4 linked regions of the Homo sapiens genome follow. The protein of the gene in region 1 interacts with the protein of each later gene in a pairwise test. Each region holds a gene or a part of one and is shown on either strand. Other genes may lie near its edges.

The links.
Region 2: the proteins of TEDC2 (region 1) and FEZ1 interact in a two-hybrid assay, tested with the Homo sapiens proteins (one study listed by BioGRID).
Region 3: the proteins of TEDC2 (region 1) and MIS18A interact in binary tests that used the Homo sapiens proteins (3 or more experiments, as listed by UniProt).
Region 4: the proteins of TEDC2 (region 1) and FEZ2 interact in a two-hybrid assay, tested with the Homo sapiens proteins (one study listed by BioGRID).

What each region holds. Positions count from the first base shown.
Region 1 is NC_000016.10:2,455,913-2,463,108, forward strand, and holds the start of TEDC2 (tubulin epsilon and delta complex protein 2), read left to right. Parts: upstream 1-4,196; 5' UTR 4,197-4,232; coding exon 4,233-4,258; intron 4,259-4,370; coding exon 4,371-4,469; intron 4,470-4,710; coding exon 4,711-4,781; intron 4,782-4,903; coding exon 4,904-5,312; intron 5,313-5,834; coding exon 5,835-5,888; intron 5,889-6,236; coding exon 6,237-6,327; intron 6,328-6,502; coding exon 6,503-6,614; intron 6,615-6,718; coding exon 6,719-6,820; intron 6,821-7,196. Other genes in the region: CCNF (cyclin-F), read left to right, coding at 633-1,108. UniProt on the Homo sapiens protein: Acts as a positive regulator of ciliary hedgehog signaling. Required for centriole stability.
Region 2 is NC_000011.10:125,493,259-125,500,410, reverse strand, and holds the start of FEZ1 (fasciculation and elongation protein zeta-1), read left to right. Parts: upstream 1-4,145; 5' UTR 4,146-4,290; exon of another isoform or gene 4,291-4,575; intron 4,576-4,795; exon of another isoform or gene 4,796-5,197; intron 5,198-7,152. UniProt on the Homo sapiens protein: May be involved in axonal outgrowth as component of the network of molecules that regulate cellular morphology and axon guidance machinery.
Region 3 is NC_000021.9:32,269,050-32,276,074, reverse strand, and holds part of MIS18A (protein Mis18-alpha), read left to right. Parts: intron 1-1,178; coding exon 1,179-1,245; intron 1,246-5,545; coding exon 5,546-5,668; intron 5,669-6,271; coding exon 6,272-6,368; intron 6,369-6,957; coding exon 6,958-7,025. UniProt on the Homo sapiens protein: Required for recruitment of CENPA to centromeres and normal chromosome segregation during mitosis.
Region 4 is NC_000002.12:36,588,162-36,595,186, reverse strand, and holds part of FEZ2 (fasciculation and elongation protein zeta-2), read left to right. Parts: intron 1-4,175; coding exon 4,176-4,284; intron 4,285-7,025. UniProt on the Homo sapiens protein: Involved in axonal outgrowth and fasciculation.

The sequences.
Region 1 (7,196 bases):
TGTAATCCCAGCAATTTGAGAGGCTGAGGCAGGAGGATCACTTCAGGCTAGAAGTTCAAGACCAGCCTGGGTGACACAGCAAGACAAAAAATTTAAAAATTAGCTGGGCATCGTGGCGTGCGCCTGTGGTCCCAGCTACTCAGGAGGCTGAGGTGGGAGGATCTCTTGAGCACAGGAGGTGGGAGCTGCAGTGAGCCGTGATCATGCCACTGCACTGTAGCCTGGGCGTTCTTTCTAGAATGTTGTTTGAGGTGTGCCCACGTGGTATACGTGACACTCCTCACTGCCCTGCTGGGATCACTGCCCTGTGCAAACCCCAGGCAGACTGCGGGGTCCTTGCCAGAAGCCCAGTTAGTGTGAGTCCTGTCAGTTTCCCGGTTGCTTGCTTCTGCGTCCACTTGGCTTGAGCTAGATGGCCAACTTGTCATCTCCACATTTGTTGGAGTCATGGCGGGCAGCTGTCCAACTTGGAAGAGGCATGTCACCCACGCTTCTCACCACAGGAGGGTAACACAGGGGACCGTAGCAAGGTAGAAGATTCTTGACCTGGACTTCAGGGTCCTGACCTGGCAGGGGGTCTCCCCTGATGCTTGGGTGTGACATGACTTCCCTCCCCACCAACCTTCCTGCAGTGACAGCTCCCAGCGGCATCCTCGATGTCACCGTGGTCTACCTGAACCCAGAACAGCATTGCTGCCAGGAATCCAGTGATGAGGAGGCTTGTCCAGAGGACAAGGGACCCCAGGACCCACAGGCACTGGCGCTGGACACCCAGATCCCTGCAACCCCTGGACCCAAACCCCTGGTCCGCACCAGCCGGGAGCCAGGGAAGGACGTCACGACCTCAGGGTACTCCTCCGTCAGCACCGCAAGTCCCACAAGCTCCGTGGACGGTGGCTTGGGGGCCCTGCCCCAACCTACCTCAGTGCTGTCCCTGGACAGTGACTCGCACACACAGCCCTGCCACCATCAGGCCAGGAAGTCATGTTTACAGTGTCGTCCCCCAAGTCCCCCGGAGAGCAGTGTTCCCCAGCAACAGGTGAAGCGGATAAACCTATGCATACACAGTGAGGAGGAGGACATGAACCTGGGCCTTGTGAGGCTGTAAGTGTGTCAGCACATTTGCCGCAGTGGATGTGTACTGAGGGGGCTGGAGGCGAAGGGTGGGAGCATAGCATAGGAACGCTGCATAGACCATGGAGGCCTTTGCGCAGAGAGCAGAGAGGATGACTTGCGGCCACCAAGTTTCTGTCTCCGCGGGAGTCCCGTGCAAGCCATCAGAATGTTGAAATGAGGGTGAAGAGCTCAGATCCCTCTCTTTGGAAAGTTTAGCCTGGAAGCAGTTGGCCACACTGTGTGGAGGGCACCTCTCTGTCCCTTCCGTGTCTCACTGTCTCTGGAAGCTTCAGCCCATGTGTGTCCTGGTGTTCCCAGCCCCACCAGAGCCCCGTGCCGGGAGCTGACAGCTTTCACGCTTAAGGCACGTGTGACCTGGGTAGTCAGACACCACTTGAGCCCCTGCCCACATCTGCTGGTTTGGGGCTTCAGTGGGGAGCTGACAGCTGTGAGCACACCACTGTCCCCTCATCCACCTCGGCCTGCATGGGGCACCCACTTCCTTCTGGGTGGGGCTTCCATGGTAAGGGGGCCTGCGTCCCTGCACACTGCGAGGACTGCCTTGGCCACAGGCCCACTCCCTACGACACGTGACTCGTTTTAGAGCTCTGTCCCAGAGGCGTTCGTATGTGACCCACAGATGGCGTCAATGTGAACACCTCTCTTTGTGCTGAATTTCTGGGCCATTCTTTTCCTGTCTTATTTCTAAATTTCCTTCTTCCAAGATGAAAACAAAAGAAAAACTTAAAACAGAAGGTATTAAAAAAACAAGAGATTCCCACCATTATTTAGGTTCACCTGCAAAACAAAAATCTTACTCCAGCCCCTCAATGCCATCCTGACACACTTTATGCAAAAAGAATTTTCCCAGATAGGCTAGCCAGAAAAAACTTCAAGTCCTCTGTAACATCTGAGGTGACCAAGAGGCAGAAGAGCAGAGCAGTCGGGGGCCGTGTCCTGGCTGATCCCAACTGCAGCTCTGCTGTGGGGGCCCGTGGGAGGGAGGCAGACCCCTGGGCTTTCCTGCTGGCCACGGAGACTCTGCTCCTGCATGGAAAGGGAGCCTGGGAGCCAGCAGCCCACGCCTGGGGAGCCTGCCTGGGGCCATGTGACCATGGCCTCTCCCTGGGAACGGGCTGACCACAACACACCCTGCTGCCATCCACTTCTGTTTACTCTGCAAATGTAAGAAAGAACCACTTGGCCAGAAGTGTCCCCCAGATGCTTTTTTTTTTTTTTTTTTGGAGACAGTTTTGCTCTTGTCTCCCCGGCTGGAGTGCAGTGGCATGATCTCAACTCTCAACTCACTGTAACCTCCGCCTCCCGGATACTCCTGCCTCAGCCTCCTGGGTAGCTGGGATTACAAGCACCCAACCACGCCCAGCTAATTTTTGTATTTTCGGTAGAGACGGGATTTCACCATGTTGGCCAGGCTAGTCTCGAACTCATGACCTCAAGTGATCCGCCCACTTCGGTCTCCCAAAGTGCTGGGATTACAGGCATGAGCCACGGCGCCTGGCCCCCAAATGCTCTTGAACCGGAAACCCAGGGATGGGAGATGCTCACTGAGCTGCTGCTTTTATGTGTGCTGGTGCTATGTGTGTTCATGTCCGCGGCAGCTGTCTTTTTGCTACTATAAGGGAATTCTGGCCACCCTGGGTGGGGTGTGGTCGGGGTGAGAACCCAAGCGTTGGAACTGTAGACCCGTCCTGTCGACTGTGTGCCCCTGGGCATGTGTGAGCCTCAGTTTCCTCATCTGTAAGGGGGGCAATGATACCTACCTCACAGGGGTGTTGTGAGGATTAAATGTGAGGAGGATAGTGGCAGATGAGTGATGGACGTCCTTCACTGCCTCGGCCCCTTGTCCAGGGGCTCTTAATCCCAACTCTGCATGGAGTCAGTTCTCTGCTTTCTCCCAGCTTGCACCTGAAGGAGGAAACCACTCCAGGGGGACCTGGCCCCGCCTGCCTGTGGTGGGTGGGTTCCTGCATCACCCACCTGCTGACTGAGCATTTCCCTGCCTCCTCCTTCACAGAGAATCTCCAGGGAGGCAGGGCCACCGTCACCCTCCCCCACCGCTGATGGAGGGGCCCACCCGGAGCGCTGGGCCAGAGCTGCCTGGGTCCCAACCTCCCTGACAACTCCCTTTGTGCCCTCCTTCCCCTCTGCGATGGCACCTTCCCATTAACGACTATGGAATGGACTCACCTGTCCCATCTTTAAACAGCAACCCCAGGCTCTGTTTTTCTTTCAGCTACCGCCTGGGATTTCTTGCCCCCTAATTGTTTATTCTTGTTAACACCAACTACATGGGGCCCTGCTGCCTTCCTCACTTCCTCCCTCAGGTGTCCCCCGCATCACCGAAGGCCCTGTACCCCCGCCCCCCTGCTGTGCTGTGTACACCGCCGAGGCCTCAGCAGCACTTGGCCTGTGACCCACTCCCTCCCGTGACAGCCTCCTGTTGCCTCTGTGACACTGTCCTACTGCTCCTCCACCTCCCTGGCCATTGCGTGGGCCCCGTGATCTGTCCCTACCCGTCCCCTGCCCCACCAGGGGCCACCTCGCCTGGCCCACTGCTCCAAGGTCTGAGCTTCCTCCCCTCTGCCCAGTGCTATCACGTCACATGTCCAAAAGTGAACACTTTCTCCTCCTTCATCCCCGCCCCTGACACGCGGAATCCTCACCTCCAGCAACCCCGTCCTGTCCCTGTGCTCGGTGGCCCAGGCGTCAGCAAGACGGCTGGTCCCTGCGTTAAGAGCACTTTCAATAAGGACAGATGGAGCCTCTCGTATAACCTTCACCGGCCCCCTGCAAGAGAAGCGCGATAATGGCGCCCCCATCTACCCAGTTACCCAAACCAAAATCCCGGCGTCGCCCGCAGTCACCTCCCTGGCGGCCTCGGGGGCCCAGCTCCGAGCCGGAGTCCCCGTCAGACCTGGGAGGCAGGAGTGGGCGGGGCTTGAGGCTTGCCCGCAAGGAGGGAGAGAAAGCTTCGGGGGCGGCCCCTGAGCCCCGGTTCAGGATTGGGCAGCCCGGCCGGGAAGGGGCGGCCTTCCCTCCCGGAAGGGGCGTGGCTCTTCAGAGGCGGCAAATTGCAAGGAGACGCCGCCGCCTTCATGCTGCCGGCGGGCTGCTCGCGCCGGTGAGGCCTGCGCGGCAGGAGGGGGTGGGAGGATGCGGGCGGGCCGGTAGCCAGGCGCGGGGCCCGAGGCCCGACGCTGGCCGAGGTGCTGAGCCGCCGGTGCGTCCCCCAGGCTGGTGGCCGAGCTGCAGGGCGCCCTGGACGCCTGCGCACAGCGACAATTGCAATTGGAGCAGAGCCTGCGCGTTTGCCGTCGGCTGCTGCATGCCTGGTACGCGGACCCCGGACCCACTGGCCAGACCTCCCTCGGGCCCTCAGAGTCCCGCCCCGAGCGCCCAGGGCTGGGAGACCGGGCGCAGCCGCCCACTTCGGAGCTGTGGGTTGTCAGTGCCACCCTCCTTACCCTGCAGGCTCTGAGCTGGGGGCCTGCCGCGGGGCCCGGCGGCCCCCTCGGGTCTGTTTGGGCTGGGCCCTGCCTCCTGGCCGTGCGACGGCTGCCCGTGTCTTTGCAGGGAACCAACTGGGACCCGGGCTTTGAAGCCACCTCCAGGGCCAGAAACTAATGGAGAGGACCCCCTTCCAGGTAAACCTCCACCACCCGCCTTCTCCAGGTGCTGCTCTGGCCTGTCTGCTGGCGTGCAGTTGTGAGGAACCCTCCTGGGGGACAGTGGGGAGAGATCCCTGCATAATTCTTGGCTTTCACAGCATGCACACCCAGTCCACAAGACCTCAAAGAGTTGGAGTTTCTGACCCAGGCACTGGAGAAGGCTGTACGAGTTCGAAGAGGCATCACTAAGGCCGGAGAGAGAGACAAGGCCCCCAGCCTGAAATCTAGGTCCATTGTCACCTCTTCTGGCACGACAGCCTCCGCCCCACCGCATTCCCCAGGCCAAGCTGGTGGCCATGCTTCAGACACGAGACCCACCAAGGGCCTCCGCCAGACCACGGTGCCTGCCAAGGGCCACCCTGAGCGCCGGCTGCTGTCAGTGGGGGATGGGACCCGTGTTGGGATGGGAGCCCGAACCCCCAGGCCTGGGGCGGGCCTCAGGGACCAGCAAATGGCCCCATCCGCTGCTCCTCAGGCCCCAGAAGCCTTCACACTCAAGGAGAAGGGGTAGGTTTCCCGGACCCTCACTGGAGGGACTTCTGTCTCTGCCTCCTCAGACCCTGGCTAGCAAGGAGCCTGGGATTTGGGGTGACAGGGAAGGCAGGGCATCGAGCCCTGTGGCATACCCCTGAGGCTCATGCTCAGAAGCTGGCAGAATGAAGCAGCTGTGTGGTGGTGTCCAGGTTGGCACCATCAGGTCAGGGAAGTACTGGAGCCTGTCCTCCTCTCTTCTCTGTGGCTGTCCCCTTATTTGCCCAGGCCAGAGGCTCCAGATGGGCTCTGGAGGGCGTGGGATCTGCTCACAGGGCCCCGCTCACAGGGCCCCCTCTTCTCTCTAATGGGGCAGCACTGGACGATGCTTCTCCTATGGCCACTCTGGAAGCCCTATCCAAGGGGGCTCATCCTTGGTGGGGTCGGGTGTGGGAGAGGGGCAAGAAGCCTCATCCCTGATTGGGCTCTGAGCAGGAAGTGGGACTTGTAGACCCCAGAGCAAGGCGATGCTCCTCTGAACACGGGCTTCTCCGACAGGCACCTGCTGCGGCTGCCTGCGGCATTCAGGAAAGCAGCTTCCCAGAACTCGAGGTGAGGCTGAGGTCTTTGGCTGGACGGGGGTAGGGGAGAACCGGGAGGCATCACCAGCTCGGGGACAGGTTCGAGATACTTTCCAGTGGGTCTCTTTGTCCTCTTTGCTGAGTGGGATCACTGTCGATGTTAAAAATCTGCCAGCCGGTCAGCTTTGTCCCCTTGTCCTAGTCAGTGTCCTCTTGGTTCCCTGCGGCCTCTGGAGGCCCCTCCTGGCATTCAGCAGAGCCAGACGCCCAGCCTGGGGTCCCCACCCTGGCCCTTGCCTACCTCCCAAGGCCCAGCTTACTGGCTGGAATAACCGTGTCCCTCTGTGGTTCCTCTGTGCACCCCACGTGTGCACCCCAGCCTGTGGGCCCAGCTCAGTTCCACACAGACCAGTGATTCCACGGATGCCGCCGCTGCCAAAACCCAGTTCCTCCAGAACATGCAGACAGCTGTATCCTTGCTGGGCTTGTGGGAGCCCTGGGGGCCTCTAGCTCTGAACCTGGCAGGTTTGCAGAGCAGCCCCAGGAGGGGCTGGCGTGGGATGGCCAGGGCCACTCCCCAGGCCCCGTTCTTGGTGGGAGCAGAGGGGCTTTGGCTGCAGGGAAGTTTTCCTGACCCATATCCAGTCAGGCGGGCCCCAGCCCAGGCTCAGTGCTGTGGAGGTGGAGGCGGAGGCGGGGCGCCTGCGGAAGGCCTGCTCGCTGCTGAGACTGCGCATGAGGGAGGAGCTCTCGGCAGGTCAGTGGGTCCTGGGTCTGTATCAGGAGGAGTGTGGAGGGCCAGTGCAGGGAGGGTTTCCAGACTGCCACGGGCCCCACCTGCTCTCCCTGACTCTTCTGCAGCCCCCATGGACTGGATGCAGGAGTACCGCTGCCTGCTCACGCTGGAGGGGCTGCAGGCCATGGTGGGCCAGTGTCTGCACAGGCTGCAGGAGCTGCGTGCAGGTGAGACCCCGCCCCCACCCTGCCACCTGCACTGAGGTCTGGGCCGGGGACAGGGTGCTTTAGCCAGGCTTGTCTGCGCCTCAGGGAAGGGTGAGCAGCCCAGGGACCAGATGCAAGTTGGTGGGCCCCTCCACCCCTCCCACGCCACTCCCCAGTGTGCTGGGTCCTCACCAGTCGTCCTATGGGAGCAGTCAGCCTTCCTCTCCTCCTCAGGGCAGCTCTCCCACCTCGCTGCTCCCCGCACACAGAACCTCATTGCTCTGAGCAGTTGCTTATTCACCCAGTTGTTGAAAAACTAGCATGTGAGGGCCGGGCGCGGTGGCTCACGCCTGTAATCCCAGCGCTTTGGGAGGCCAAGGCGGGTGGATCATGAGGT
Region 2 (7,152 bases), on another chromosome or scaffold:
TATTTGTTACAGCAGCATCCCACTTTCTACTACCAAAATTTGTACTAGTTTCCTAGGCCTGCCACGACAAATGATCTTTAAATAGAAATTTATGGTTTCATGGTTCTAGAGGCTGGAAGTCCAAAATCAAGCTGTCAGCAGGGCCATGCTACCTACTGAAGGTCCTGGGGAAGAATCTTTTCTTGCCTCATTCTAGCTTTGGGTGGTTCCTGGCAATCCTTGGTGTCATTTGGCTTGTACCTGAATTACTCCAATCTCTGCCTCCTTTCCTATGCATGCTCTCCTCTTGTATTTTTTGTTTTTGTTTTTGACATAGTCTTGCTTTGTCACCTGGGCTGGAGTACAGTGGCATGATCTCAGCTCACTGCAACCTGCGCCTCCCCGGTTCTAGCGATTCTCCTTCCTCAGCCTCCCAGGTAGCTGGGATTATAGGTATGTGACACCACACCCTGCTAATTTTTTTTTTTTTTTAATTTTTAGTAGAGATGGGGTTTCGCCATGTTGTCCAGGCTGGTCTCGAACTCCTGACCACAGTTGATCTACTCACCTCCCAAAGTGCTAGGATTACAGGTGTGAGCCACCATGCCCAGCCTCCTCTCCTCTTCTTATAAGGACACCAGTCATTGGATTTAGGGCCTACCCGAATCTAGTATGACCTCATCATAACTGATTACATCTGTAAAAGTCACATTCTGAGGTTCTGAGTAGACACAAATTTTAGGAAAATACCATTCAATCCACTGCAGGTTCTAAGCAGCAGAGTTTGGAAATCAACATACTAAACATGGAACCTCTTGAAAGCATGCCTTCATTTTTAGCTCCCCAGCTTCTAGCCTAGGTCATGGAATGCAACCAATGCTTGCTGGAATTTGTACACCGATGTTGACAGCAGCATTATTTTTTTATTCTTTCTTTCTCACTCTAATCCCATGACAGATTAGTAGCATTATTCACAATAGCCAAAAGGTGGAAACAATCCAAATGTCCATGGGCAGATGAATAGATAAACAAAATGTAGTATATACATACCATGGAATATTATTTACCTTAAAAAGAAAAGAAATTCTGACATTGTTGCAACATAGATTAACCTTGAAAACATTGTGCTAAGTGAAATAAGTCAGATACAAAAAACAAATATTGTATAATTACACTTACATGAGGTACTTAGAATAGTCAAATTCTTAGAGACAAAATTAGAATAGTGGTTACCAGGGGCTGGGGAAGGGAGTACTGGGGAGTTAGTGTTTAATGGATACAGAGTTTCTGTTTGGATAACAAAATTTCTGTAGATGAATAGTGGTGGTGGTTACACAGCAATGTGAATGTGTTTAATACCAGTGAATTGTACACTTAAAAATGGTTAAAATAGTAATTTTTATGTTATATATATCTTACTACAATAAAATAAGTGTTTGCTGGAAGAATAACTGGGCTCATGTTCAGGGATTTCTCATCCTAGGTACCTAGCCTAGGCTACTTGTCCTCAGCTTTCAGTTTCTTCATAGCCTCACAAAAATAACCACAGAATCCACTAATTGGTTTCTTATTATATGCCAGGCACTGTGCTAAGCATTTTGCATGCATTATATTACTTAATATGCATAACAACAACCTTGTAGTAGATATTGGCATCCAACAGCAGATATTGGCATCTCCATTTTACAGATGAGAAAACTGAGGTACAGAGAGGATAACTAACAAGGTCACCAGCTGAAGACCAAGTTCTTTATCACTTTCAGTACTTCACAAGCTTCTCTCAAATCTGTTTGTCCCATGCTCTGAAGATCTAGACAAAAGATGGCCTCAAATTAGCCAAGACATATATATATATACATATATATACACATATATATATACACACACACACATATATATACACACACACATATATATATACACACACACATATATAGGACATCTATATGAGACATATATATGGGACATCTATATGAGACATACATGTGGGACATCTATATGAGACATACATGTGGGACATCTATATGAGACATACATGTGGGACATCTATATGAGACATACATGTGGGACATCTATATGAGACATACATGTGGGACATCTATATGAGACATACATGTGGGACATCTATATGAGACATACATGTGGGACATCTATATGAGACATATATGTGGGACATCTATATGAGACATATATGTGGGACATCTATATGAGACATATATGGGACATCTATATGAGACATATATATGGGACATCTATATGAGACGTATATATGGGACATCTATATGAGACATATATATGACATATATATGTGTGTGTGTATATATATACACACATACATACATATAGTGCCTTCTAATAAACCTGGAAGTACTTTACTCATATTCACTCCTTTAATCCCACAACAGGCCACAATAGAGTGGGGCACTATTATTTTCTTTCTTTTTTTTTTTTTTGAGTCGGAGTCTCGCTCTGTCACCCAGGCTGGAGTGCAGTGGCGCAATCTCGGCTCACTCCAAGCTCCGCCTCCTGGGTGCACGCCATTCTCAGCCTCCCGAGTAATTGGGACTACAGGCGCCCGCCACCACGCACAGCTGATTTTTTGTATTTTTGGTGGAGATGGGGTTTCACCGTGTTAGCCAGGATGGTCTCGATCTCCTGACCTCGTGATCCGCCCGCCTCGGCCTCCCAAAGTGCTGGGATTACAGGCGTGAGCCACCGCGCCCGGCGGGCACTATTATTTTCTTCATTTTACAGATGAGGAAATGAGCCACAGGGAAGTTAACTAACCCAAGGTCACAAAACTGGGCATGATCCCAAGAAAGGAGATCTAGGGATCTTTTAACCAGCTACTCTTTGTGATTTATTTATTTATTTATTTACTTTTGAGACAAGGTCTTGCTGTCGCCCAGGCTGGAGTGCAGCTTCAACCTCTTGGGCTCAAGCGATCCTCCCACCTCATCCTCCAGTGTAGCTGGGGCTACCAGGATGGGCTACCAGGATGGGCCCACCATGCCTGGCTAATTTTTTTTTTTTTATAGAGATGGGGTCTCACTATGTTGCCTAGGCTGGTCTTGAACTCCTGGCCTCAAGTGATCCTCCTGCCTCAGCTTTCCAACATGTTGGGATTATAGGTGTGAGCCACCGTGCCTGGCCTTATGATTTCTTACAGGAAGACATCCTCTGTCTATTGCTCCCACAAAGGCAAATAGGCCAACGCTTCTTCTCATCTCATTGGGACATTATTCCTGTTTCCATCCTTCTCATGGTTGAAATGTCTGTGGAATGAATGCATAAACGAGCAAAAGAGACGCTCCCTGCCCCTTCCAGTTGAAGTCCTCAGTTCAGCCCAGAGGTACTTTGCCATCAGACAAAAGTACTTGGGGTTCTCCAAGCCGACATGCTTTTTCCAGTGCCTTCCTTCGATAATTACAGTTCTTGTGCTCTTAGTTGTGTGTATTCGTGAATTATTAGATTTTTTATTGACAACTTCTATAAGCACAGGCCTATGCACAGTAGACAAGATAAATTAATAATTTTTCACAAGACTCCAGGGACCCTTCTCATTTCAGCCTCTTGAATTTTCCTGTATTATCTCAAGTCCTCCTGGGCCTGAAACCTTCTCACTCAGATTTTTCAGCTGGATCCAGCTCCCACCCAGCATCTTTGGGCGAGAAAAGCTCTCCTGCCGGCCTCCTCATTTTTGGCTTGAGGTCCGAACCCAGTTGGAGCTGGGAGACGTCGCTGGGCCTGCCCGCCTCAGCCTCCAGTAGAGGAGAATGGGAAACTCGGAAAGTCCAAAAGGGTCTTTGAGTGTGTCTGCCGGCATCCGCCAGCAGCCATCGCCTGCATTTTATCCAGAAACTAGTGTCAGGCTTTGCGAGGTATCCATATTGGTAGTTATTGCACGCTTTCATCTTGGAGTTTCTGAATATTCATGAGGGAAGCAGAAAGGCCAATGTTAAAGAGGAGAGAAACAGAAATGCATAAATATTAATAAAGGCAAGCCCACGTGCTCGGAGGAAGGCTATGAATGTTAACGAGGGGATGACGTCCAGCTCCCGCGCGTGCCAGTTGGGTGGGTGCCCGAGCGCGGGCGCGCCCCCGGAGCCCGGGCACGAGCGCGGGGAAGGGGTGGGGTGGAGGCGGGAGCGGAGCCGGGCGCCGCCGGAGCTGCGCGGGGAGCGCTCGCTGGCTGGCTGGCTGGCTGGCTCTCCGCTGCGCTGCGCTGCGCTCCGGCCGCTCCCGCGGCCCGTGGATGGGGGTGTCCGGCTGAGCCCCGGGATCCGCCTCCCTCCGCCAGGACCCGCACAGGTGCCGTCGCGGGGGTTGACTTTAGTTAGGACCCGACTCACTGCTGGGGGTGGGGTCTGGTGGGGGTGGTAAGGAGGCCCCGGGATTCTCTGACAGGACGGTCTGGGGTCGCCGCAGCTCCCCTCACCTGGTCCCATTCTGGGATTAGAAAGGAACAACGGGAGGCCGTCGCCTTCCTGCCCAGCCCTTCAGGGAGCGCAGCTGGGACGCCGCGCCAGGCCCTGGAGATGTGGGATGATGGGCACTTCCAGTATCATCTCAGCATCGGCCCTCCAGCCAGGCCTGGTGTGTGTGTGTGTGTGTGTGTGTGTGTGTGTGTGTCCGCGTGTGTGTGCCCGCGTGTGTGCGCGCGTGTGAAGGCAGGGCGGCGAGGTATGGGGGCTGGGGGAAGAAGGGAACGCCGCCCGATCGCGCTGGGGCAGTGGGTCGGTACCTCGTCCCGGGACCGTTATCTGGTCCAGTCACCGTAAACGCCCCAAGATCATCTTTGTCCCTAAAAACTTACCCCCGACCCCGCTCGTGCCCCTCCCCAGAGTGCGGAGCCTTCCCCAGACCGCGCATTCCTGCAGTGTCAGAACCGCTGGCAGCGGCCGCAGACGCCGGGAGAGCGATTGTTTTACTACAGACGGGCGGGAGAAGGGACCGGGGCGGCTGCGCGGTGGCGGGGCGCGCTGCCGTCGGGTGGGCCCCGGGCTCTGGAATGCGGGGAGCAGTGTTTGACGGCGTCGAGGAGGTATCACAGCCCGCTCTTCTTCCCTTTTGCCTATCCCTTCTCTCCTCGCCGCTAGGCATCCCCGACTCTCATCCCTCTCCCGTGTCCGGGCTTGTTTGGCCGGAAGGGCAGTGGAGTGTGTATGCGGCCTGCACGGGATGAGTCCGGCTTCCTCAGAGTGCCAGCCATTGTGCTGCCTGGAGGAGGCTTTCTTTACCCCACCGGACTGGGGGGAGGAGGGGGATCTGAGATGGAGGTGAATGGAGCAGCGGGAGGAGGGGGAGGGGAGCAAGCAGAACCGCGAAGGGGTTGCTGATCCATATGCAACGAAATACTTTTTCTGTCAAAATGTGCACAAACATGCACACTGGGTGGGTTCTGCGGAGGAGCAGTGGGAAATCTGAAGGTGGATCAGTGCAGGGTAGGTTTTAGGGACGGATATGGGGGACGAGGCACGGAATCAGTTGATCTATGGACCAAGTGATGGGAAGAAGGAGATGGAATGGGGCTTGTGTGGAGGTGCCGAGGCCCAGCGGGGTTAGCGTGGTGAAATCTCCACCGCTCCGCTCCACTCGGGTCAGCTCAGCAAAGCAGGGACTGAGCATTTGTACCGCAGCCCCGAGATGCAGCGAGTGCATCATTGTGCTGCAGGGAGACGTTTATGCGTTTCCTACTGGGTCTCTGTTAAGCCCCGTGAGTGTCTTTTCTTTTCCAAATTACACCATCTATTGGGAGTGAAAATAAATGGAATAGATTGTAGGACAATCAGACTATAGTCCTGCGCTCTGTTCTGTGGTAAAGAGAAAAAGAAAAGGCGACCCTCCCATGGTTCCTTCTTTCTGCCATTTTCATGTATGTACGTATTTATTTTTGATCTTGGAAGTCTAAAGGGAATAAGCTATCGCTTGTATTAATCCTACTTTAAGGAAAAGAAGGCTCCCAGATGAGCTATGAATGAGGATGGTGCAAGCTTGCCAGGATGGAAAATAAGGTTGTTTCAGACATTTTAGTTGAAGGATGAAAGCACTCCGTGAAGAGAGGAGGGCGAAAGAAAGTGGGCTAAAGGAAGGAAGGCAGGGTCACCATCTAAGGAAGTGCTGCCAACCCCAATCCACAGAGCCCTCCTGGAGGCTATAGTGGGGCCAGTCAGAACGCCTGACTCTCATCTGTGCCACAGCCTGAGGTCTTTCCACAAATGCTGGATTCAGTTTGGGTGTTGAGTGACTAGTTTCCCAGCACTGGCTTTCACTTTAACTTCATCTCCAGATGGTCATTCATGCAGCACTTCTTGGCTCTTGGATAATGAGTTGACAAAAAACAATCAGTCTATATTATGGACTGTTTCAAATGAGCATGTGTCTGAACCCTAGAGCTGTGATATTCATTTCGTCTTTTATAATTTTCTAGATGAATCCATTTTCTCTACACTCTGCCTGGGCAGAGTGCTTTCAGCACACTCTTCCTGTTGCCAACACTCAAAACTCAGTCTTAGTCCTAGATTCTGGTTGGATTGGCCTCTTGTTGCTGGTTAATCATATAGACTGTGTCATTTCAAATCAGAAACCCCACTGGTGTCACCATCTGCTTCTCCCCTGTCATTCCCAGAGAAAAGTACAAATTTAAAGGCAGTGTAAATACCTGCAACACTATCGGATTGGCTTTCATATCTCTGTAAAATGGAACCCACGATCCAGGAACCTTTGAACAAATAAATTGAAAAAAGAAGCCTTAGTAAAAAAGATGCTAAAATTCTTTCAGCAATAGTTCTCTTGTTTGATAAGCATATTGAAGCATTGCACAGAGAATATCATGGCAGGGATAATTTTTCTTTTACTTGAAGCACTCCCACATCACCTTTCTTTCTTTCTTTCTTTCTTTCTTTCTTTCTTTCTTTCTTTCTCTCTTTCTTTCTTTCTTTCCTTCTTTCCTTCTTTCCTTCTTTCCTTCTTTCCTTCTTTCCTTCTTTCCTTCTTTCCTTCTTTCCTTCTTTCTTTCTTTCTTTCTTTCTTTCTTTCTTTCTTTCTTTCTTTCTTTCTTTCTTTCTTTTCTCTCTTTCTTTCTTTCTTTCTTTCTTGAGATGGAGTTTCGCTCTTGTTGCCCAGGCTGGAGTGCAATGGCATGATCTCGGCTCACTGCAACCTCTGCCTCTT
Region 3 (7,025 bases), on another chromosome or scaffold:
ATTTAGGGAGGAAGGAAGAGATCAGAAACTGCAAGGCGTTGTAGTCTGTTCTAAAGAGTAGTAATCTGTTCTAGTGAGTACGTTATTATGCTAGCTTAGGCAGGGGAGTAATGTGACCCCGCATTTTCTTTGGAGAAAGCATTGAAGGAGGAACAAGTATGGAAGTGGGGAGGTTAGTGAAGAGCCAGGGCAGTAGTCCAGGCAAGAGGTGGTGCTGGTGGTTTGGGGGCTGGAGTGAAGTTTGTGAGGTAGAATTGATGGGATGGATCAGTGGAGTAGATACAGGGGAGCAGGATGAGGAGACAAAGAATCAAGGATGACACCCTGGTTTCTGATTTCAGCAAGCAGGTAGATGGAGTTGGAGTTTACCGAGTTAAGGTAGACTGTAGGAGGCCGTGAAATCAAGAGTCTGTTTTGGCCATTTTAGGTCAGATGTCCCTTCTTCATTTCTCTTCACCCTCTACCCTGTCCTTTAGTGTTTCCTAGAGCTGGATTCTTTGGGAATGTTTGCTGCTGCCTCTGAAGTCCAGCAGTGACCTCTGTCCAAGTCATTGTTCAAGTAAAAGATGTGTGGCTGGGATCCTGAGGACCCTCTCAGTTACTTTTAGAGAAATGGGCCCTGTGTTTGAAATCTGGAGATATATGTGTTGGCTGTTTGCATCTTCCTAGGTTTGGAACCCAATTTCACTATCTGGCAGATAATTCTTTGCAGTGTGTGATTTGAGGTTCTACTTGTTCCAAGTTTACTGTGGAATGAATTTTCCCCTCTAATTTTAGCCATTCTATTAATGTTAGTGGTTTTCAGGGAAAGGGAGGAAATAACCTTTTAAAATTTTTCTTAAATTTTTATTTAAAAATTTTTTTTTAGAGATGGAGTCTCGTTATGTTGTCCAGGCTGACCTCGAACTCCTGGCCCCAAGCCATTCTCTCACCTTGGCCTCCCAAAGGGTTGGGATGACAGGTGTGAGTCCCTGCGCCTGGTTGGAAATAACTCTTATTCTGCTATCTTTTCCCAGAAGACCCCAGTACATTTAGTTTTAAACCGCTCTTTTGTGTGTTTGACTTTGGGCTTATTTTTTGTCCTCCGAGTTCTAAAAAGTTGGATTAGAAACTCTCTGTCTGCAGGTATGTTATAACGAACTACATTAATAAATTATTGTTACTTTCTCTGTTTCTAGGTGTTTCCTGTAATGTTTCTGTGGATAAGGAACAGAAGCTATCCAAACGTGAAAAGGAAAATGGTTGGTGAGTAAAACTGTATTTATATGAATATGTTAGAGAATTTTCTTTAATAAAAATCTTTAAAAGGTCATTACTAGTAGTAAGATTACTTGGGATAAAACTTTTCATGATAGTAAAAAAATCAGTCGTTCGCATATATCAGTTCTTTTTTTTGCTTTTTCTATATCCTGTTTTAGAAAGGAATATGTTAGTTCTTGAGTGGTTGTGGTCACCTTTAGATATTGAAAAGTTAGAGTTTCTAGATTTCTAAAAGCATATGCTGACATTCCCTTTTTGGATCTTTGGGCTTGGTGCTGAAGAAAATCAAAAATAAAAATAGAAAAAGAAGGTCGGGCACGGTGGCTCACGCCTGTAATCCCAGCACTTTCGGAGGCCAAGGTGGGCAGATCACCGGGGGGTCAGGAATTCGAGACCAGCCTGGCCAACATGGCAAAACCCCGTCTCCACTAAAAATACACAAATTAGCCGGGCATGGTGGTGCGGGCCTGTAATCCCACCTACTCAAGAGGCTGAGACAGGAGAATCACTAGAACTACGGAGGTGGAGGTTGCAGTGAGCCAAGATCGCCAGTGCACTGCAGCCTGGGCAACAGAGAAAGACTCCGTCTCAAAAAAAAAAAAAAAAAAAAAAAAAAAGAAGAAAAGGAAATACCTATATTATAAAATCTCAATGTTAAAGGGTGCCTTAGGCTAATGCTGCCCAACTTTCTCATGTTATGGCACACACATAAAATGCTGCTGTCACACACACAGCCTATTGGGGTAAACAGACAAGGCTGTTTGTGGCAAGAGCAAACAACACAGGAGCTCCAGCAATCTGAAGCCCTGTGTGGCCACTTTAAGGGTAGAGGGGACAAATATCTTGCCATACCTGCCACCCATGTGCCATAGTGACGCCTGAGCAAACTGAGTGGGAAGCGCTGCCCTATATAATTGTTGCTGCAAATGTAAACTGTATCTTACACTTGCGTATGAAATAACTTTAGGTGGTACACAGTTAAACAAAAATTAATTATGTGTATATTTTAATGTGTATTAAAAATACTGGCTTTTCATTTTTAGTGATGCTAGAGTATCCTATCAAATAAAGTATATTTCAATTTAAAAAAAATTACTCTGTGCACTTATGACCAAATACCTCCTGATGACCCCTCCTCCCAATACCATCACATTAGGAGCTACCATTTCAACTTATACATGTGGTAGGGGACAGAAACATTCAATACTTAGTCGCTCCTAAAACCCTTTCGATTTCTTGAGTGATGGGGTGATAAGGGTATCTTTTGTTACCATGTTTGGTCTTAGTCCCCAGTTCTGACAGAAGAGCTTCTAAGATGCTTGGAATCTCTGGAGTGATAATAATGTCGTTTTTAATCCTAATGAGGTGACTGTGGCTGGGGGGCTTCTATGTAGCTTCAGGATTGGGGGCCAGAAGGACCAAGGCATGATTAGAGGGTTGGAAGTTTTGGCCCTACCCCAACCTCTTCTCCTACCTCCATCGAGGGCAGAGGGGCTAGAGATTATCAGCAATGGTGTAATTAATCATGCCTGTGTTATAAAACCTCCAAAAAACCCATGGGTTTTAGAGAACTTCCAGATTGGTGAATATGAGATGCCGGGAGGGTGGTGTACCTAGAAAGGTCTTGGAAGCTCTGTGTCCCCCTTCTGTAACCTTTGCCCTATGTATCTCTTCCATAAAAGTGAAAAAAAAAAAAAAAGAAAAAAAGTTTCTCCATTTAAGATAAATTAGTAATAGTACAGATGGTTTGTGGATGTGACAGAAATTGTGGTGCCGGCATGCAGGCCATAAAAATTTGGAAAACCCACCTCAGATCATTTCTCATTTGGTAGTTGAAGAAAGTTAGGCCCAGGGAGGCTAGAACTTTGCTAAGGTCACAGGACTAATTAGCAGTAAGAGCTAGGATGATGCTTGTTACCCTTCCTTACTGCCTTCGAAGTGCTCTTTCTTCTCCACTTTCTAGCTCTAGCTCTAGCCATTTTGATATCACCATCATTTTTGTCCTATTTGTGTACCAGGTACCAACTGTGCTATTACATACTAAATTTTTAAAATTAAATCAACTCAAAATTTTTATTTAAATTTGTCTTAAAAGGATTGTTTTTACTATCATAAATACATACTTGCCATAACTAGAAAGTAACTCTGAAGATAATTACAGTGAAAACAAATGTTATTAGTTCTAGCTGAGATGTTGTTGCCTGGCTGGTTCTCTGCCTGAGGTCTGTTCTGTTACTATTAAAAGATTTGCGACTATGAGACAAGTGTCAAAGACAGTCTAGCACCAAACCGAGACTTTCTTCTTTTTTCTAATCAGGATTGATAGAGAATTCACTCTCTTTGATCCAGAGTTATTAATACTGTTTGTATCACCTAAACCCATCGATTAGACTGCCTTCAGTTGTCTTGGACTTCACTAGGGTTGTGTGCTGCACACTCCCGTGTTGCTTTGGGATGCTTGTGAATTTTTTGATACCTGCCTGAGCCTTTCTGCTGATGGTCAGCAAGAGCACTGTGGGCTTTAGAAATATGTTGTGAAGGTGCCAGTGCTGTTTTCTCTGTTAAGTCTGACTTTGTCCTTTGTTGAGGATCTTAACAATCGGATTATTCCTTGTCTAACATCACCTTACGATTATTGGCACTGCCTTCTCAATGTTACTGTTCAATGAAAGGGGTGAATGCTGGCCAAATTCTTGCCAACTGTGAAAGCGGAAAGTTGCTGCCTTAATACTAGCTACCATCTCTTCATTGCTCCACAAGATGATTCTAGAAGTGTGAATGGGTTTGTTCCTATTTTTGGTGGTGTTTAGGTTGATTTTGATAACTCGGGATAAAACAGTCTTATTCATGGCTCAGTGGATTTGGGGAGTTCAAGCCTCTGGTTTCTCTGAGTGTCCTTTCTTGGCTGATGACATTAGATATTAGTTTGCAGTCTTGGTAATGGTGTGAGGCGGTCTTATAATGGTAATGAGGTTTGATATATAGCATGGAGGTTTACCTGTTCACTGTGAGTAATTTAAGTGGGATTTACCGACATGCTTTTTATTTCTCATATAAACATTTAAACAAGCTGGCTGGGTATGGTGACTCCTGCCAGTAATCTCACATTTGGGAGGCCAAGGTGGAGGATTGCTTGAGGCTAGGAGTTCGAGACCAGCCTGGGCAACATAGCGAGACTATTTCTACTATAAAACTAAAATATAGAAGCTTATAAAAGCCCGTAGACACTTAATATGTAATCAGTGGCATACTATCCAGCTAATCACATCATCAGTGAGAATTCATGACTTAATCAGATGGTGATCCATTTTGTTCTTTGTTCCATATGTTGCTGTAATAATTAACAGTGTCTCAGTATCTGTAAGTAAACAATGATGTAGTCTATAATCTGTGAGTCTTGGGTAGCTCCCTTTTGCTTGATAGCAGGAATGGATATTTAGTGATTACAAGTGTTTCACATACTGAGTAGGAGTTAGAATACTTTTGTAATAAAAATCGTTTGTGGTGTATGTTTTACTACTGTGATCACTACTAGATTTAAATCTCTAGTTATCATTTTGCTATGTGTTGGAATGGTAATTTTAGTATATTTATAGAATGGTAAATTTGGATGGGTCAGTTCAACAAGGCGTTTGGGAGACACTGGATTCTAAGCCAGGTTTTAAGGAGACATGAATAGGCTTTGGGGGAGGGTATATTCAAGTGTGTGGAACCTGAGTTGAGAGGTAACTAGAATGAAGAAACAATTACATGGGTTGTCATCTAACTTTAGAGACTTTTTTTTTATTAAGCCAAGCAGTATTACCTTCCACTAGAGCAGAGTTTGGTAAACTATGGCCCATGGGGCGGGCACCCATTTGTGAATACGAGTTTATTGGAACACAGGTTATTCAGTTAGTATTGTCTATAGGTGCTTCCGTTTTACAATGGCAGAGGTGAGTAGTGACAGACACCAGATGGCTGGCGAGGCTAAAATATTTATTCTCCACTTTGTTACATTAGTACCAGATGGAGGAATTTATATTCTAGAAAAACACCACCTCAATATTCTCTCTTGTCACTTTTTTGTATGTCCCTTGTCATTTGATACTTAAGGCATCGTGGCTGTCTTTACATTTTTATTGTAAATATCTTACTATCATTTTTTCCTATCCTTTATGTATGACCTAGTGTGGTCAGAATAGCATACTTGAGAAACTGAGGTGTTTATGGATTTTAACAGTGAGATTTTTATTATAATGAGTTGCTGCTTCGTTTCCTAAAGCAAGACATTTCTTTATTGCAGCGTCCTTGAGACTTTGTGCTGCGCGGGGTGCTCACTCAATCTTGGCTACGTGTACAGATGCACGCCCAAGAATCTTGATTACAAGAGAGACTTGTTTTGCCTCAGTGTTGAAGCCATTGAAAGGTAAGTTTGATATATAAATGTTTACCTCACAACTGGTGTTTCAGAAAGTTAAGGCACGGAATTGTCAGAACTAAATCAATACTGTTTGGTTAAATATATTTTCAAGTAATGATTTCTAACAAGCCAGTAATTTTTTTTTTTTTTGCTTTGACCTCCTTCTTTATTTGGTATTGGAAAAGTCAGACACTCTAAATTGTAGGAGAAAACACTGTGAGAAAATTTTTGGAATAAAAGTATATTCAGTTGTTTTTAAAAATTGAAAGTAGTTCAGTAGGATATTGCCCCCTGCCCCCAGCTTTTTATTTTTATTTATTTTAAAACTTATTTTTTTAAGATATGGGGTCTCACTCTGTCGCCCAGGCTGGAGTGCAGTGCTGTGGTCATAGCTTTCTGCATCCTTGAACTCCTGGGCTCCAGCGATCCTCCTGCCTCAGCCTCCCAAGTAGCTAAGACTACAGGCATATTGCCCGGGGTCTTGTGTTGCCCAGGCTGGTTTCAAACTCCTAGCCTCAGATGATCCTTCTGTCTCAGCCTCCTGAATAGCTGGGAACAAGTGCATGCCACCACACCCAGCTTGTATTTTAACCTTGTACCGTACTTCAGTTATGTTTTAGGGTCCTCTGAAAAGCAAATTGTGTCAGAAGATAAAGAGCTTTTTAATCTTGAAAGCAGAGTTGAAATAGAAAAGTCTCTAACACAGGTAATTTTATTCTGTACATTTTATATCTTTGTATGAACAGTTTGTCAGTGAAGAAGTGCTCCCCCACAAACGATAATTCTCATAACGTCATCTGTGTTGATTGCAGGAAGAGTGTGCTTATTTCATTTCAGTTGTTAGTAAAGTTGATTTTTGGGGAACTCAAAAGCTAAAGCTTAATCAACAAAATAATGAGGAAGACATGTCATGTCAAAATCAAAACTATATATTAAAACACTGCAAAGCTAGAAATACATCTTTGATTCAAATCAGTATTTTGTTTGATTCAATTCTTGTGGTATAAATAGCCTTGTTGTTGGATGTTAACATTTTCTCATTGCCAGATAGGTGAGATGGTGATGATTGTATAAAAGAGATGTAGATTATAGGTTGAGAACTACTGTTGATAGAATTATGCTTTATTTTTAAAAAATTTATGCCTCTAAATAGTTTTGTTAAACACTGAATATCTACCTTGTAATGTATGACATATCCAAAATTGCATTAAGTGTATATCTTAATTATATTTAACCATGTATAATTTTTAATTATATGTGTGTTTCTTTATTTTTTTATTTTTTAAATTCAATAGATGGAAGATGTCTTGAAAGCATTACAAATGAAGCTGTGGGAGGCCGAATCCAAATTGTCCTTTGCCAC
Region 4 (7,025 bases), on another chromosome or scaffold:
CCTTGGCACTTCATTTAACTTCTCTGAGCCTCAGCTTTTGTTTTGGTTAAATATGGATTGTATTTACGTACTGAGGTTTTACTTATAAGAGTATTCTGCAGGATTCGATGTTGGCAGGACTTTGACCTCCTTGCAAAAGAGCTGTCCTGACCGTTGTTTACGACTGGTTGTAATACTTGGTGATAAAGATGAAGGCAGTTCATATGTCTTGACTGCAGAATTCTAGAAATCTTTCACTAGAGTTGCCTCTGTGTCCTTCCAACTACCATTGTTTTGACCTTGGTGGAGACTGTTAGTTGGCTTTCATTTTCTTGGAAGATCAAACTCACTGACAGGCACTTCTAAGTGAAATATTCCATCCCATTTGCCTTTTTCTTATAGCCTTGTTTAAGAAGGAGCAAATCAGCAGACAAAGCAAACTCCTCAAATTCTGGACTGTCTTCACCTGCTAGTGTATCCTGCTTAAATTCCTGCCAGGATTAGGTCTATAGTCAGTGATACGGTTTGGCTGTGTCCCCACCCAAATCTCAACTTGAATTGTATCTCCCAGAATTCCCACGTGTTGTGGGAGGGATCCAGGGGGAGGTAATTGAATCATGGGGGCTGGTCTTTCCTATGCTATTCTCATGATAGTGAATAAGTCTTACAAGATCTGATGGGCTTATCAGGGGTTTCCGCTTTTGCTCCTTCCTCATTTTCCCTTGCTGCCGCCATGTAAGAAGTGCCTTTTGCCTCCTGCCATGATTCTGAGGCCTCCCCAGCCATGTGGAACTGTAAGTCCAATTAAACCTCGTTTTCTTCCCAGTCTCGGGTATGTCTTTATCAGCTGCATGAAAATAACCTAATATAGTAAGTTAGTACCAGTAGAGTGGGGCGTTGCTGAAAAGATACCTGAAAATGTGGAAATGACTTTGGAACTGGGGAACAGGTAGAGATTGGAATAGTTTGAAGGGCTCAGAAGACAGGAAAATGTGGGAAAGTTTGGAACTTCCTAGAGACTTGTTGAATGGCTTTCCCAAAATGCTGACAGCAATATGGACAATAAAATCCAGGCTGAGGTGGTCTCAGATGGAGATGAGGAAGTTGTTGGGAACTGGAGCAAAGATGACCCTTGTTATGTTTTGGCAAAGAGAACTGGTGGCATTTTGCCCCTGCCCTAGAGATTTGTGGAACTTTGAACTTGAGGGAGATGAGTTAGGGTATCTGGCAGAAAAAATTTCTAAGCAGTAAAGCATTCAGGAGGTAACTTGGGTGCTATTAAACGTATTCAGTTTTATAAGGGAAGCAGAGCATAAAAGTTTGGAAAATTTGCAGCCTGACTATGCGATAGAAAAAAAAAAAACCCATTTTCTGGGGAGAAATTCAAGCTAGCTGCAGAAATTTGCGTAAGTAGCAAGGACCCTAATGTTAATCCCCACGACCATGGGGAAAATGTCTCCAGGCCATGTCAGAGACCTTCATGGCAGCTCCTCCCATCACAGGCCTGGAGGCCCAAAAAGGAACAAGTGGTTTCGTGAGCTGGGCCTAGGGTCTGCCTGCTGTATGCGGCCTAGGGACTTGGTGCCCTGTGTACCAGCTGCTCCAGCTGTGGCTGAAAGGGGCGAGAGTACAGCTCAGGCTGTGGCTTCAGAGGGTGCAAGCCCCAAGCCTTGGCAGCTTCCATGTGGTGTTGAGCCCACAGGTGCACAGAAGTCAAGAATTGAGGTTTGGGAACCTCCTTCTAGATTCAGAAGATGTATGGAAATGCCTGGATGCCCAGGCAAAAGTTTGTTGCAGGGGCAGGGCCCTCATGGAGAACCTCTGCTAGGGCAGTGTGGAAGGGAAATGTGGGGTTGGAGCCCCCACACAGAGTCCCTACTGGGGCACTGCCTAGTGGGGTTGTGAGAAGAGGGCCGCTGTCCATGAGTTTATCAGGGGTTTCTGCTTTTGCATCTTCCTCCTTTTCTCTTGCTGCCACCATGTAAGAAGTGCCTTTTGTCTCCCACCATGATTCTGAGGCCTCCTCAGCCATGTGGAACTGTAAGTCCAATTAAACCTCTTTTTCGTCCCAGTCTTGGGTATGTCTTTATCAGCTGCATGAAAATGGACTATACAGTCATTCAGTGTTTGAAAATTTCTTATCCAGGAAGGTATGAGCCAGAAACCCAGCAAGTTTAGTAGTCCACAGAAACCCAGCAAATTTAGTAGTCCACAGACATTGCCTCTAATTCTACTTCACTGGCATTAGAGGAGATATTCCAACAGAGAGGAGAATAGGAATGGACTGTGCATATGGGAGCTTTGCTGGGTAGATGAGTTAGTTCTCTAGAGATTTTTGGGTTCACATTTTTATTAAGGCTAATTTTATTTTTTATTTTATTTATATATTTTTAGAGACAGGGTCTTGCTCTGTCTCCCAGGCTGGAGTACAGTGGTGCCATCATAGCTCACTACAGCCTTGAGCTCCTGGGCTTAAGCAGTCCTCCTGCCTTACCCTCCAAAAGTAGCTGGGACTGCGGCACATGCCACAGGCCTGGCCAATTTTTTTTTTTTTTTTTTTTTTGTAGAGATGTGGGGCTCCCTTTTGTTGCCCAGGCTGGTCTTGAACTCCTGGCTTCAAGCAATCCTCCCACTTTGGCTTCCCAAAATGCTGGGATTACAGGCATGAGCCACCAGGCCCATCCCTAACGTGCATTTTAAAGCCAAACATCATTTGGGATGTTATGCTTTTAGCCGTTGCAGTCCTATTGCTTCTTTTTAGCGCCCAATCCCTATTTGTTAACTATGTTATGTCTGTATTTTAAAATTTTCATTCTTGGGCTTAATACCTAGGTGATGGGTTGATAGGTGCAGCAAATCACCATGGCACATGTTTGCCTGTGTAACAAACCTGCACATCCTGCCCATGTACCCCGGAACTTAAAAAAAAAATTCATTCTTATGTTTATGCCCCAGCCAGGATTGTTTTTGTATCCTAGTGTCTTACACACTTGGAAAGAAAGCCTATTGCTTATTCACAATTAGATACCTAATAAACATTTTAGGGTGTTTTTTTCTACATGACATCTTTGTGTATACCTCTAGCTAGTAAGTAGCTTGTATGTTTAGTGTTTGATTTTACGTATCCCAATTAGATTTCAAGTCACTTGTATCTCTGAACTTTAGTTTTTCATAAAACATCATGTTTTATTGTGCTGATTATTACTTTGGTATTGAAACCTGAATTTTGGTTGTGAAATTTGAGTTTGGTGTTCTTATCTGGTGTGGTTTGGGACTCTCTTCAATACACCTCATTTGAATTAATGCTTAGAGTAATGGAGCTGGAAGGAGTATCTGCTTCTTGTCCAGGTCTCTCATTTATAGAAGGGCAGAGGATACCTAGGGAGGTTAAGGGGCCTGGCCAATGACTCGTTATTTGAAGAAGGATGGAGATGAGAGTTTGTTTCCCTAGTCTCAGTCAAATGCCCTTACCATTTGACCCTCTTGCCTCCCTGTAATGCTGTTGGGTAATAAGGTCAGGTAACTGCATTGGATAGAGCCTGGGTGTGTTTTATTGTGAACTCCCTCTCTTTCTCCTTTTTGTTGTATCTGCCTTAGTGCTTAGCTTCTTTATTACAAATTAGATATTAAATCCTGTTCTCACATTGAGAGCGAATTCTTTCTCCAGAAAGGATAACAAACCTTTTGTTTGAGAGAGATTTTTCACTTTTTGAAATGGTCTGTTTGTTTGAAGTTACAGAAGAAAAATAAGTGTAATGCACAGTTGTATTTATTATTCATGTGACCCTGGAAACATTTCTTCCCCGCCCTGTGTTTCAGTTTCTTCATCTGTAAAATGAGGTTAATAATGGTTCCCCCTTCTAATGTTGTTTTTGAAGATTACATGAGTTAATACATGTAAATTGCTTAGAACAGTGCCTAGCACCTAATATAATGGAAGTGTTGCCTACTGCCTATTGGCAGTTTTCTGTACGGCTTCACCTTCCCTTAGGACTTCTTGTCAGCCCAGTTATGTGATTTTTCACCTCGTTTTTGTTTAGGAGACTCTACTTTGTTGATGTTTTTCTGAGAAACAATGTGCTGTCTGTTTTTCTCTGTTTCCTTTGACATTTGCTGTTCATCTTTCACTGAATATTTGTTTAAGAAAGACATACAGAATGTTAATTTTCATTGATTGTAGCTTTCTTCTTTTTAAGGATTTGGAATGCCCTGACAGATAATTATGGGAATGTGATGCCTGTAGACTGGAAGTCATCGCATACTAGGACCTTGCACTTGCTTACTCTGAACCTCTCAGAAAAAGGGGTAAGTTAGGAATTGAACCAATAGTGTTTGAATAACTGATGCTGATAATAGAACTAAAACAGTAGCATTTCTGCTTAACACAGATTCACTGACCTGCCTCTCATTTCTGAAATTATAGCAGTTTGGGTGGCTCTGTCTTGATGTCTTGGCTGTAGGGCCATCACCTTGCTGGCACATTCCTCCAGTTCTTCTCCAGCACACTCATTTTTTATGTGTAGCTAAATTTCCATCACAATTTTTTTTTTTTTGACGGAGTCTCACTCTGTTGCCCAGGCTGGAGTACAGTGGCTTACTACAACCTCTGCCTCCTGGGTTCAAGCGATTCTCCCACCTCAAACTCCCGAGTAGCTGGGATTACAGGCATGAGCCACCAGTCCCGGCTAATTTTTGTATTTTCAGTAGAGACAGGGTTTCGCTGTGTTGGCCAGGCTGGTCTCGAACTCCTGACCTCAGGTAATTCACCTCCCAGAGTGCTGGGATTACAGGTGTGAGCCACTGCACCTGGCAGTGATGATGCACTGAAACACTCAGTAAAATTTGGTGCACTGAAACCCTCAGTAAAAATGCTAGCCTTTGGTTTAATATACTGAGAGTATTGGAATCTCAACACGGAGTTAACTTTTTAATGAGTGTAGTGACCTGCTAGACATGATATGTTGTCAGGAGACTGTGTATTCCTGTGAATACTGGAGAACCTTTAAAAGATATTTTAGTTCTTGGCTTTTAAAATACGGTCTTGGCTAACTTACCTTTCTTGGGGTCTCCTGTGTACATCCTGGTATTGTAAAGTGAAGATGTCTTGACTAAGAAGTGTGAGCACGAGTGGTGGGACAGGTAGGGAGGCAGAAAAGGGTTGAGAATTACTTGAAATGGAAAATCACAGTGTTAAGCTTTTTTAAATCTGATGAGAAACATATCCAAATTATCTAAGTTTCAGGGCCTGGCTGTTTAAGTTCCTTATCAAATAATAATGTAAACTCATGCCAGATCTTCTTGCGTGCTCTATATTTCATTAAGTGTAATTATGTGATTATTGAGAATATAGTGCAGTAGGCCTGTCACTATTTTACATAGTATTGTTAATGTTTTGTTAAAAGGATTTTCTTACATATGTGATCAGAAAAGCCTACTGTTATTATTTTCTAGTAAAATGTAGAATTCTGGCTGTATTTCCCAGTATTCAGTAGCTATGGAAATCTTCCTGACTGTGCCAGTCATTAATCCCATTAAGCTTTGCAGACTGACCTGGCATATATTTAATGAAAAGGAATAAAATGAGGGATCTTTTGCTCTGTCTTGTTTACTTAGGTCCTGGCTATCATTTTGGGCTTAGTTCAAGTTTCCCTTCCTCTCTGAAGCTTCCTATTACTGTTTTAGCCTTTGCTGATCTCATGGAATTATACAATTTTAGAGTTGGAAGGGGCTTTAAAGGACACTTAATCCAGCCTCTCACTTGGGGGGAATCCTCACCTCCAGCATCTCTGACAGATGGTCATTTAGCCATGGCCTAAATTCCTGCACGGAAGGAAAACACACTCCCCTCTAGGGGAACTGATGGCACTTGTGGGGTTGTGAACTTTGAAAGGACTTGTTATCTGTGCCACGGGGTTTAGCCTTGCTGTCTCATGGGTGCTAGTCCCCAGATCACTTTGTCCCTGTCTCTAAAATTACCACTGCCTTCTCTTGTTAATCATATGTTTCTGGGTCTGTCACTAGATTGTGACTTCCCGGCAGGTATTTGTATTTGTCTTTATAGTAACTATACTGTTCCTGGCACATAGTAAGTTTGAAGATACCTTTTTATTGAGTGAATAAGTGAATAGCCTTGTCAGTGAAACTGTAGGGCCAGAGATCGTGATAGAAAGGTTTTAAAAAAATATTTTCTATGTTATTTAAAATAATGCAGAATGCACCAAAACCAGTCCATGGGTACTACTTTTTTGACATATTAAAAAATAGCATAGAAGAGTTTCCATTCATAGTTTCAAAGTCAGGCCCATTAGCAGCGTGAGTGAGACAGTTTAATCCAATTTCATTGACTAAATGTACAGCGGGCCCACCATATTCTCTGGTTTCACATCTGCTGCTTTAGCCAACTGTGGATTAAAAAACTTGAAAAAAAAACCCCACAATAAAATAACAACACAACAATTGAAAATAATGAAAATAAAAAACCGAAAACCGATACAATATAACTTTATAATATAAATATTGTATAGTTATATACAATATAACTATAAACCATTTACCTTGTATTAGGTATTATAAGTAATTTACATATAATTTAAAGCTTATAGGGGGATGTGCACAGGTTATATGCAAATACTACCCCACTTTATATAAGGGACTTGAGCATCTGCAGATTTTGCTATTGGGGTGTCCTGGAACAAATTTCCCTTGGATACCGAGGGACTGCTGTATGTCTTGTATTGTTCTTAGATTGCATCTTGGGAGGTTGCTCCCTTTTGCTGCCTTTTGAATGTTATTTTCAATGCCACGGTAATGATATGGCCAAGGCAGTGATTAGTAATGACGTAGAGTTTAATGCTAGTACTGACATTAAAAAGCCTTACCTGGCTGGGCGCGGTGGCTCATGCCTGTAATCCCAGCACTTTGGGAGGCTGAGGTGGATGGATCACCTAAGGTCAGGAGTTTGAGACCAGCCTTACCAACACGGTGAAACCCCGTCTCTACTAAAAATACAAAATTAGCCAGGCGTGGTGGCGCATGCCTGTAATCCC